Regions from separate parts of the Homo sapiens genome. Here regions 2 and 3 are each reported to be linked to region 1. Evidence: microRNA targets listed by miRTarBase, many of them from high-throughput screens and not tested one by one. Region 1 holds a microRNA gene; each other region holds the end of a gene's coding sequence. Distances are from middle to middle.

Region 1 (4,000 bases):
ACAGGCACGTGCCACCACACCTGGCTAATTTTTGTATATTTAGTAGAGACGGGGTTTTACCATGTTGGCCAGGCTGGTCTCGAATTCCTGACCTCAGGTGATTCACCTGCCTTAGCCTCCCAAAGTGCTAGGATTACAGGCATGAGCCACCGTGCCCAGCCAAACTGTACTTTTATGTGCTACATCTGGCAACGCTGGTTTGAGGTGGTCACAGCCCAGACCACACCCCCGCTCTCCCAGTCCCAGAGGCTGAACTCATGCTCTCTCCACACACAGCCATTAAGAGTCACAAGCTTCATTAAAGAAAACAAACAGAACCACCCCAAACCTGCCCATGTGAAGAAGCTGCGTGAGTGTACCGACCTCCACCCTATAGAGCCAGGAATCCCTCCGGTCCACAATGGAGCTGCCAGGGGTCCAACTCAAAGACCCCTGGCACAATGACAGAACAAAGAGGATAAAGCTGGGGTGCAGCGTGTTCTAGCCTTTCCTGCACTTAACATACATTCCAGAGCTGCTTCCACTGTTCTGAAGACAGAAGAGTTACACATCAGAGAGAAAACCAGAAACCCTAAGACCCCAGCAGCCCCTTTAAGCCAAAATCAGGAGCACTGGGGACAGCTAAAGGCAGGGAGCGGGACCTGACACCACTCACCAGGGACATCTCCCTAGAGCCTAGGGAAGGCTGAGCTGTGCTTTTCTGTGACCATTTTCCGAAACTCTGTGGCAATGCCGGTGCTGGGGTGTCCTGAGGTGAAGCTAGTGCAGGGCCAGCTCATCTTTCCTGCACAGAGCTGCAGGGCTGTGTGTGGGAGAAAAGCTGCCCTCTCACCGCAGCTAAGGACACATCCACCCCCATGCCCGCCCTGCCCCACTGCCCCTCACCAGTGTAAGCGCAGTGCGTGGAGAAAGGCCGAGAGGCCCTCCATGATCAGGAGGATGGCCACGGTCAGGGTGGCAAAGGCAGTGAAGAAGAAGAACAGCACCAAACCTCCCGCCAAGCTCTTCACGCTCAGGCCGATGTGGATCACCATGGTCCAAAGCACCTCAGACAGCTCTGGGGAATGGGAGACACAAAATCCAGTGCAGTTTGGCAAGAGGCAGCTGTAGGCCATGAATTTTGCTCTGCCATCCCCCTGCTCTAGGGTTCCCTGGATCCTGGCTTCCCACTGCCTTAGTGGGACCACCATGCAGAGCTAACCTGGCACAAGTGCTGAGCCTCCTGTCTGTACTCATTCTCCTTGGGTTCAGGAACCTGAATAATTCCAGAACCTTCATGTAATTTCCATTTGACTTAAGCCCCCCAACTGACAGTGCGCCCACAGAGGGGGAAACTAGAGTTCCGGAGCCCGGAGAGAGGTACTCACGCGCATGAGCGAGGCTGAGGGCCCAGAGCCGCAAGTAGGAGGCAGTGTTGGAGATGCAGCCCAGGCAGTACTCGATGGTGTGGATGGCCTGGTGGACCATGGTGTCCCCAAAGTCAAACTGTCGTGGGAGGAAACCAGAGAGAAGATATAAGGCTAGGAGGGGAACGTGCAGGCATTCTGAGTTGTGGCTACTTGGCGCTTTGAACCTGGGCCAGGGCAGGGGACTGCACTTCCCATGGATGGCACCTCAACTCTGGAGGGGCCAGAAGCACCCAGTGTTGAGCTCAGGTGGTGATTTCGGCAATGCCTTCCCCAAAAATCCTGCCTGACTTAGCCCTCACCTGGGACACCTCCATTCCCCTCAATACATTACATTTTAATTAACTACATCTTAATAAGATTCTTTTCAACACATTTGTTCTTCTCCCTCTGGGGCTCTGTGCTCAAGAGAGGAGTGTGTGCTGAGTTGACGGCACTCTGTTGAGAAAGTGACTGTCTGGGTCTGGGACCCTAAGGACCTGCAGGAGGGCAGGAAGGGATTTTCCCCAGAGTGCGCTTCAGGAGACAGACTCTCAACCCGGACACTGTCCTGAGAAGACTAGGCCTCTATGGCCACTTTACTTATTCTTTTTACAGCCTTTTGGGAGCAAGATAACCTTCTTTTTCTTTTGTGACTTCTAAAGAGATTACACGGTGAATTTTTTTTTCCCTACATGATTTCACCACCATGCACAGGGAAATCCTGACAAAGTTTACAAATTTCCACATGGGTTAAGGCCAAACAGCATATCTGTTTGGGTTAAGACTAAATAGCATATCTCCAGTTTCTTGTTTGTTTTCGTTTTCCTCAAGCTCCCTTTGTCCCAGTTTTCCTTTCAATACCAAGAATTATTTCCAGAATAAAGGAATGGGCTGGAACAAGCTCTTGGGAGTGAACTTTCAGGTTTGCTCCAAGCACAGTCAGGGGTGAATGTGGGCTTCTGAATTTGGTATATTCTGGAAGCCCCAGGTACTTTCCCTGGGCCTCTCTGTCAAGCTGACCAAAGACCAGGAGGCGCTCCCTTATGGGGCTTCCCCCCGCAGAGCCCAGACCAGAATCTTCTGAGCTTTCAGACACTCCTGAGGGCTCAGTGGCCTCCCCATCGGCCCCTGCCCTCAGGTCAGGGTCTATTTTTCACCGCAGTTCCTTTCAAAACCCACGTGATTCCACTCCCAAAGGACACCAGAAATGCCTTGGGAAATCACTGAGAACATGGGGATGGGAGAAAGTGGCTTGGCTGGTAAAGCCACAACAGCCCAGGCCACAGGGGTGCAGCCAGCGTGGAGGGGGCTGGCTCCACCATGCCATCTCTGGGCGAACGTCTGCTTCTCCCTCACCTCTGTCGACACCTAGCCTATTTCTGGGCTTTTCTTCCGGAACAGGCTCTTCAAGCTTCCTTACTTACCCTGAAAACTAGGGTAATCCTAGTTCCCTGAGTTCCCTAAATCCCAACACCGTGGTTAAGAGCTCTTTCCTACCACTGCTGGCTGCCGCCCCAGGGCCCGCATTGAGAGGAAGAAGTCCATGGCTCCCAGGAGTGCTGATCTCTACTCCTATGGGCTGGGAGGGCAGTGACCACTGGGCTCCCTTACAGCCAATCCCTTCAGTGTTTTTATTCTACCTCAAGTTTCTCCCACCGAATAAACTGCAGGACAGGAGAGAAGCCTCGCTTCCAGGCCTTACCCTTGCCTTCTCTCCTTCATTCCCAGCTTCCTGCAGGTGTTCTCAGGAGAAGCAAGGACTGGGTGAGAAATCCAGCTCAGCACTTATGAGTCTGCCACTCAGCACACGCCCGTATCAATCGGCCATGACCAACCATGAATCGCTGCAGAGTCCCTGTCCACATCTTCTGCCTCAGTTTCCTCTCTGCCCAGCCAGTCCTCACCCTACTGCACCCTGGCTTCCACCTTCACTCCTCCACAAAATGCCTCTACTTAGTAAGGTCACCCTAACCTCCCAGTTGTTACTTTTTTTTTTGAGACGGAGTTTCACTTGTCACCCAGGCTAGAGTGCAGTGGTGCGATCTCAGCTCACTGCAACCTCTGCCTCCCGGGTTCAAGCAATTCTCCTGCCTCAGCCTCCTCAGTAGCTGGGATTACAGGCACGCACCACCACACCCGGCTAATTTTTTAGTAAAGATGGGATTTCACCATGTTGGCCAGGCTGGTCTCAAACTCCTGACTTCAGGTGATCCACCCACCTTGGCCTCCCAAAGTGCTGGGGATTACAGGCGTGAGCCCCCGCGCCTGGCCCAGCTGTTAAAGCTAACAGATGTTCTGTGCCCTTGTCCATGCTCCTGCAGTGTCTGTCACCATAGCCTCTTCCTCCTTTTTGAAATACCTGCCATCCCTTGGTTTTCCTCCTACCTCTCTGGACAGTTCTTTTTAGTCTCCATCGAGGTTCTTCCTTTTTTTTTTCTTTTTTCAAGACAGGAGTGCAGTGGCACGATCTCAGCTCACCACAACCTCTGCCTCCCAGGAGAATCAAGTGATTCTCCTCTCTCAGCCTCCCGAGTAGCTGGGATTACAGGCACATGCCACTACCGCCCAGCTAATTTATGTATTTTTAGTAGAGACGGGGTTTCACCACGTTG
Region 2 (4,000 bases), 1.7 Mb from region 1:
CTGGGAGGGGTAAGATGGGGTGATGATATATAAATGCTCAGCCCACTGCCTAGCACTGGGCCAGCATGCTCAGTCAGCAGTAGTTGGCTATGTTCCAACCCTTGCCGCTTCTGTCTCCCCCAGAGCCTGTCTCCCCAGGACCGTGCAGCATATAAAGAGTACATCTCCAATGTGAGTCTGGGAGCAGAGCAGCAGTGGGGTAGGGGTGGGGGAATTCAGGGGTGTCGAACTCATGGCTGCCACCTTTGTGTCCCCATCCTGCAGAAACGTAAGAGCATGACCAAGCTGCGAGGCCCAAACCCCAAATCCAGCCGGACTACTCTGCAGTCCAAGTCGGTAAGGAGCCCCTCCCAGATGCAGGGGCGTGGGGCGGGGGGCACTGCCTGGAATGGTTGGGCAGAGACCAGAGACCACTGATGTGCCTCCATCCCTCCAAGGAGTCCGAGGAGGATGATGAAGAGGATGAGGATGACGAGGACGAGGATGAAGAAGAGGAAGATGATGAGAATGGGGACTCCTCTGAAGATGGCGGCGACTCCTCTGAGTCCAGCAGCGAGGACGAGAGCGAGGATGGGGATGAGGTGGGGCAGACAGGGCACAGTGGGAGGGGAGGGGAGTCCTGCCAGGAGGGCCACCTGGTGACTCCACATCCTTTCTCACCCCCCAGAATGAAGAGGATGACGAGGACGAAGACGACGACGAGGATGACGATGAGGATGAAGATAATGAGTCCGAGGGCAGCAGCTCCAGCTCCTCCTCCTCAGGGGACTCCTCAGACTCTGACTCCAACTGAGGCTCAGCCCCACCCCAGGGCAGCCAGGGAGAGCCCAGGAGCTCCCCTCCCCAACTGACCACCTTTGTTTCTCCCCCATGTTCTGTCCCTTGCCCCCCTGGCCTCCCCCACTTTCTTTCTTTCTTTAAAAAAAAAAAAAAATACGGTGGGGGTAGGGGGCTGGAGGAGCCCAGGCCAGGACTCTGCAGCCTCAGAGACATCAGCCCTTGGGGGTCCTCCTCCAGGGACAGCAACTATCAGACTAAGCCAGCACCGGACCAGCCTGGCCCACCCCACCCACTTCTGCACTTGCGGTTCCGGCATGGACAATGGACCGGAGAGTGGGGGTGGGGGGTCCCAAAGAGTTTGATGAGGCCCTCCACACCTGCGGCCCAATCCAAGGTGGGGTGGAAGCTTGGGGAAGACCCATTCCTTCCCAGAGGGGCCTGCCACCTGGACCCCTGCATTGGAACTGGAGGCAGGGAACATGGGGAGGAGGAGGGTCGGTGCCTTCAAGAAAACAGGCACTGCCCTGGTGGCCCTCTCCCCTGCCCCCTGCAGGAAGGAGCTGCCTGGACCCGTTCATGGGGGAGGGGGCAGAAGTGTTTTTTATATATGTGTATATATTTTTTTTTAAGCTCTGAGCTGTCAACGAGACGTTTCCTACCGATCTCGGCTGCCGTCTCTGTTGTCATTTCTGGGAGAGGGAGGGTTTAGGGGTAGATTTGGAACCTTTTAAAAATGGTCTTGATGTATGTGGAAGAGAGTATGTGTATGTGTGTTCCTGTACATAGCATGGGTGCAGCTGTGGATGTGTGCAAAAGAGTGTGAGTGTGTGTGTGTGTGTGTAAAGGGGTCTGTCCTAGAGCCCACATCAGTTTGTTGTGAATCTGGAAAAAGGGTCGGTGAGGGCCGGGAGATGTTGACCCTGGTGGGAGCAGGCTGAGGCTGCCCCGTTCTCCACATCCTCTGTTTTGCCCAGTCTCTGATTCCATTAGGGGGAGTGTGCTGAAGCCATTCTCGGATGCTTCCCAGACCAGGCTCCCTCTGCCAGAGTCACATGCATCCGAGCTGCTGGTCTCCATTGTCCAGCAGGAAGGCGGAAAGGCAGGCAAGATGGTGTGAAGCTTAAAGCTTGTATTTGATGGAAAAGGTCTCCCCTGTTCATCTGAGAGGCCAAGCCTGGCCACCCCAGGCTCAGAACCTGGGCTTCAAGAAATGTGCTGGGAGCTCCTAACTTACACATCCCTCCAGCCTTCCTTGAATCCTCCCACCACCCCCTATTTCCTTTAATTTCTCAGGTCTGCTCCCTCCTCCCCCAACCCCACAGCTGGGCAAGAAGTCTGCAAAAGCTGCATCTGCAGCTGTCTCTAACTCTTCCCAGCCATCTCCCGTATTTTTTGGTACCTTGATTCCTTGACTCTTAATAAGCCAAGCCACCTTATCTCTGTAGTTCTTATTTTTTTGTTGACTAAATTTGGGGGGTTCTTTTTTATGGTCATGTCACTGACCTATTAAATTGGGGCTTGGTGCTTTTCCACCTTCCCCCTCTGAATGAAAGCCAAGGAATGGGGGAAGAGCGGGAACTCTGCCGCGGAGGTGGAGCAAGAACGGTGAAGGGCCCTGGTCCCAGAGAGGCTGGTGGGTCCCTCTCCCAAAGGAAGGCAGACAGTCTCTGCTTTGCCTTGGACCTTGGTGCTGGGGGTGGGGAGGCCTGGGGGGGACACTCCCCACTCCCATTCCCCTTCCTTTGTCCTAATCCTGGAATTAAGTACAGGGGTTTATAGGTTCTATTTCTTCCCAAGAGCCCTGCAAAGAACCCCAGTTTCCTATTTGGATGCCCCTACACTGTTGTGTTTCAGTGGAATGTATTTTCATTTAAAAACAACTTTGAATGGGGCACTTTTTCTTTCCTGTTTTAAAAATTGAAAAATTCTTACAGTACAAACAGGACTGTCAGGGTGGGGGTGTTGGTGCTGTAAGAGGTCACTCTTGAGTGCATTTTGGCACTGGGATGGGATGGCTGGGGTGGGAAGACCCCCATCCCCACCCCCAACTTCTTTTCTAATATTTAAGGAGTGTTTTGTAGGATTCAACAACCACCACAACTTGAATTTGTATCATGGGAGGTGGGAGGGAGTGGCTTAGAGGTGTCTGCCTATGCTTAAAGCCAACTGTGGAAGTTTTGTTTTCCCTTTTTTGTATAATAAAGTGAAAAACAAAGGTTTGACTGCTGTCTGGTCACTGGAATCAATGAAGGTTCACAGGGGTGACCCAACAGGTTTGATCTATAAAAATGCTTGAAGCCAATTTGCCTTTTCTTCCTAGAACTATCTTCCTCTTCCCTAAAGATTCCATAGGCAACCTACCTTCACATTGTTCTGTGCTACTGTTCTTGCCCTTTTCTCAATTCCATTTGTTCACCTTGGGTTGTGAGACCACTAAAGATTCTGAGAAGTTGGAGAACAAATGCATTTTCACCCAAAGTACATGGTCTTGGGGAATTGGAGGTGATGAGCTACTAGGGTCAAGGGTTCGCCCTGGGCATGCAAGCCTTCCTAGTGTAGGGCTTATCGTGGGGAGTTGAGGGAGCACGCTCTCACTTTGAGCCTTCAGCTCCATCCCAGGTTAAAGGTTAAGGGTTAAGGATGACTTTCCTAGGACCATCTAGGCCTCTGATGGGAAGCAGGCTGGGCTGGGCTGAGATGACTCACTCTCTGAGATTAAGGGAAGACACCCTTTCCTGCGCAGGCCTTGGCTGGGTTCCTGGAACCTCAAAGGGCTGCAGACCCAGGTCCTGTCGGAGAACTCTCTCCCAGCCCTTGCCCCTATCCTATAGTGGCCAAACTGCTAAAAAGCTTGTTGTGCCTCTTGGCCTCCCACTTACCACCATCCTTTGAGGTTCCTTGCTAAGGTCACCAACATGTTCATTACATCTGGTGAACACTTGTCTTGTCTTTTGCCTTCTTGGTCTACTCTGTTGGTGTCAGCTCTTCCTCATTTTATCCCAGGTGTTCATGTCTCTCCCTTCAACCTCCCATTATCACGCATATGCAACCATTCCGAAAGGTGGTGCCGACAGAGACTGCTCTTCCAAGCTGCAGACCTGTGTAGACACCCTTGCATCCCCTGGGATATCTTGCAGACATCTCATACCTCAAGACCCGAAATGATTACCAAACACTTAGTCGTTCAACCTAGAAAGCAGAGTATTGGCCTTGACTCCTC
Region 3 (4,000 bases), not on the chromosome of region 1:
ACTCTGAAGAAAGAGCACCTCATATTCTTTTGCACTCGGGCATGGCCGTCTTACCAGCTGCAGGATGGGGAGGCTTGGCCTCCTGAGGGAAGTGTTAATATTAATACTATTCAACAACTAGATGTTTTCTGCAGACAGGAGGGCAAATGGTCCGAGGTTCCTTATGTGCAAGCCTTCTTTGCCTTGCGAGACAACCCAGATCTTTGTCAGTGTTGTAGAATTGACCCTGCTCTCCTAACAGTTACATCAGGCAAGTCCATAGATGATAATTCCACAAAGTCTGAGAAACAAACCCCTAGGGAACACTCGGATGCAGTTCCGGATGCCCCAATCCTTCCTGTCTCCCCTATCTGGGAACCTCCTCCAGCCACAACATCAACAACTCCAGTTCTATCCTCCCAACCCCCAACTTTACTGTTACCCCTACAGTAAATGCCTGATGGACCTGGTGCCACTAGGGTCCAAGTTCCCTTTTCATTACAGGACCTTGGGCAAATAAGAGGGGACCTGGGCAAGTTCTCTGATGACCTGATAGATATATAGAGGCTTTCCAAAACCTAACTCAGGTGTTTGACCTTACTTGGGGTGATGTTATGTTGCTCTTAAACTCTTAACTACTACAGAGAAACAGGTAGCCCTGCAGGCAGCAGAAAAATTCAGAGATGAACAACATGTCTTCTATAGCCACTCAATAAGGAAAGAAGGTGAGAAACAACCAGCATTCACATACCCAATAGGAAGCGAGGCAGTGCCCCTTGAACAACATAATTCGGACCCCAGTGGTACCTTAGATGAGTGGCAAAGAAAACATTTTCAAATGTGCTTATTAGAGGGCCTACAGAGGACCAGAGCCAAGCCTCTTAATTACCCCAAACTCTCCATGATAGATCAAAAACTAGATGAAAATCCCTCAGCCTTTTTGGAAAGGCTGAGAGAGGCTGTAGTGAAACACACTTCCTTGTCTCCTGTTAGGTATGTTTATACCTCACATAAATAATTCAATTGAGGGACAGCTAATTTTGAAAGACAAGTTTATTACTCAGACAGCCCCTGATATCAGAAGGAAGCTAGAGAAACAGGCCATGGGATTAGATAGCACCTTACAAAACCTCCTGAAGGTAGCCACCTCGGTCTTTTATAATAGGGACCAGGAGGAGGCCCAGGGGAAGGAGAGGAAACACAAGAAAAAGGCAGAGACTCTGGTGGCCACTTTGTATAAAACCCAGTATCCCCAAGGTACACCTGCTAGTTGCTACCAATGTGGCAAACTAGGGCACTTCAAAAGGGACTGCCCAGGCAGCAAGAAGAAGCCACCTCAACCCTGTCCAGTATACAATGGGGACCACTGGAAGGCAGACTGTCCTGGGAAGCATAGGTCACTGAGTCCAGAGCCAGTCTCACAAATGGTCCAGCAGGACTGATGGGTCCTGGGGCTCAACTCCCTGGCTCCAGTGGCTCAGACTGCTGTTACTACCCGGGAGCACCAGGTGATTCTGGAGTTCGAAGGGAGGAAGGTAGACTTCTTTCTGGACACTGGAGCCAGGCTTCTGTTTTCCTCTCCAATTCAGGCCTTCGTTCCTCCCATAGCACAACCATGATGGGCATCTCAGGAAAGACTTTAACTTGATATTTTTCTCAACCTATTAGTTGCAGTCAGAGGGACCTACTGTTTACACAGGCCTTTTTAGTCATGCCTGAAAGTCCCACTCCTTTATTAGATAGAGATATTCCAGCACGTATGGGGGCCACCATCCTTATGGCTCCAGGACAAACTCCGCCTCCCCTTAGTGGAAACCAGTATTAACCCAGAGGTTTGGGCAACTCAGGGAAGAAGTGGCCGGACTATAACCACTATACCAGTCTGGATCCACCTCAAGGATCCCACTTTTTTTCCTAACCAGAGACAATACCCTCTGAAGCCAGAAAGTAGAAAAGGGCTAGACGCCAGCATTGATAACCTAAAGGCACAAGGCCTCCTTAGGCCTTGCAGTAGCCCTTGAAACACCCCAATATTAGGGGTGCAAAAATCCAATGGGGAAGGGAGACTAGTTCAGGACCTCTGCCTTATTCATGAGGCTGTGATTACGATTCATCCAGTAGATCCCAGTCCCTATACTTTGCTAACTCAAATATCCAAGGGAACTAAATGGTTCACAGTTCTGGGCCTAAAGGATGCCTTTTTCTGTATACCTTTATACCCTGACTCCCAATACTTGTTTACCTTTGAAGACCCCTCCAATCAAACCACCCAGTTAACCTGGACTGTACTGCCTCAGGGATTTAGAGATAGCCCCCACCTATTTGGGCAAGTATTGTCAAGAGATCTCTTCGAATTCTTCCATTCTCAGGTTAAAGTTTTACAATATGTAGATGACATTCTCCTCTGTGCCCCAACTGAGGAAGTTTCTTGAGACGGCACTGAGGCTCTCCTTAATTTCCTAGCTGGAAAGGGATATAAGGCTTCAAAATCTAAGGCTCAGCTCTATCAGACTTTGGTAAAGTACCTAGGTCTGGTCTTGTCAGAAGGGAACAAGAGCACTAGGCGAGGAGAGGATTAATCCCATTTCCTCCCTTCCTCTCCCCAGAACCCTCAAGCAGCTGAGGGATGCTTGGGCATTACAGGTTTTTGTAGGTTATAGATACCCAGGTATGATAAAATAGGTTGCCCTTTATATCACCTTATAAAAGAAATTCAAGTGGCTAAAACTCACTTCCTGACCTGGGAACCTGAAGGTCAAAAGGCCATTAATCAGTTAAAACAAGCCTTGCTTAAAGCACCAGCCCCCAGTCTTTCTGTAGGGAAGTCCTTTAATCTTTATGTATCATAAAGGAAAGGAATGACCCTGGGAGTTTTAATTCAAGTTCAAGGCCCAGCTCAACAGCCAGTAGGTTACTTAAGTAGAGAGCTTGACTTGGAGGCTAAAGGATGGCCAGCTTGCCTCTGAGCAGTTACAGTAGTGGCCCTGCTAGTCCCAGAGGCCACCAAGTTAACCCTGGGGAATAACCTGTTTATGCCTCACATAAATAATGTGGCAGGCTTGCTGTCCTCTAAAGCGAGTCTCTGGCTAACAGACAGCTGCCTCCTCAAGTATCAGACTTTGCTGCTAGAGGAATCTGCAGTCCAGTTAAAAACCTGACCTTGCCTGATCCCAGACACTTTCCTCCCAGAGGAAACTGGAGAAACTGAACATAATTGTGAACAGACTGTAGTACAACCTATGCCGCTAGGGAGGATCTCAAAGAAATTCCCCTAGAAAATCCAGACTGGACCCACTTTATGGATGGGAGCTCTTTTGTAGGACAGGGAGTCTGAAAAGTGGGATATGCAGTAGTCACCCTAAATAACATTGAAAATGTGCCTCTCTCACCAGGCACACACACTCAATCAGTTGAGCTGATCCCTCTCACAAGAGCACTTGAACTAAGCAAAGGAAAGACAGCTAACATTTATACTGACTCCAAGTGTACCTTTCTAGTTCTCCTTGCCCATGCTGCCATCTGAAAGGAAAGGCACTTCCTCACCGCTAATGGGTCTTGCATTAAATACCATCAAGACATCAACAGGCTATTATCCTCAGTGTTCCTCCCATGAGAATTAGTGGTCAGACATTGCAGAGGGCATCAGAAGCGGGTAGATGAAATAGCGAAAGGAAACAGGCTAGCAGACCAAAGAGCTAAGTCAGCAGTAAGAAGGCCCCAAGGTCCCAAAACACTTGAGGCCCCTCTGATTTGGGAGGGCTACATAAGGGAAATAAAGCCTCAGTATTCCCCTACAGAGATAGAATGGGCCACCTCTCGAGGTATACTTTTCAACCCTCAGGATGGTTACAATCAGAAGATTGCAAAGTACGCTTGCCAGCCTCCAGCCAATGGAAGATTCTTAAAATCCTCCACTGAGCCTTTCACTTAGGAAAGCATAAGACATCAGTGCATCCAAAGATTGTTCTCAGGAGAAAATCTACTAAAAATGGTCAAATAGGTTGTTAATACTCGTGAAACC

Evidence for each region. Region 1 holds the annotated microRNA hsa-miR-5010-5p (AGGGGGAUGGCAGAGCAAAAUU, at 1,117-1,138, opposite strand). A microRNA usually pairs through its seed, bases 2 to 8, with sites in the 3' UTR of a target mRNA and lowers its output. Matches are read on the target gene's strand: a 7mer-m8 pairs with bases 2 to 8, a 7mer-A1 pairs with bases 2 to 7 and ends in A, and an 8mer does both.
Region 2: the mRNA of UBTF is a reported target of hsa-miR-5010-5p. Seed matches in the 3' UTR shown: 7mer-A1 at 865-871, 7mer-A1 at 897-903 and 7mer-A1 at 2,087-2,093.
Region 3: the mRNA of NCR3LG1 is a reported target of hsa-miR-5010-5p. The part of its 3' UTR that is shown has no 7-base or 8-base seed match.

The regions. Positions count from the first base shown.
Region 1 is chr17:42,511,346-42,515,345 of GRCh38, reverse strand. MIR5010 (microRNA 5010) reads right to left here and starts at 1,158; the gene lies at 1,039-1,158. ATP6V0A1 (ATPase H+ transporting V0 subunit a1) reads right to left here. Exons shown (of 22, transcript NM_001130021.3): 20 at 1,368-1,485; 21 at 886-1,057.
Region 2 is chr17:44,204,035-44,208,034 of GRCh38, reverse strand. It overlaps UBTF (upstream binding transcription factor), which reads left to right. Exons shown (of 21, transcript NM_014233.4): 18 at 124-171; 19 at 265-336; 20 at 438-581; 21 at 668-2,995. The coding sequence ends at 793. The region is part of intron 1 of ATXN7L3-AS1 (ATXN7L3 antisense RNA 1); the gene reads right to left. MIR6782 (microRNA 6782) reads left to right here and starts at 196; the gene lies at 196-264. RefSeq lists an enhancer at 572-1,072.
Region 3 is chr11:17,372,081-17,376,080 of GRCh38, forward strand. NCR3LG1 (natural killer cell cytotoxicity receptor 3 ligand 1) reads left to right here. Exons shown (of 5, transcript NM_001202439.3): 5 at 1-4,000. The coding sequence ends at 432. Among named protein-coding and RNA genes, the nearest start is that of KCNJ11, 15 kb to the right of the region's middle.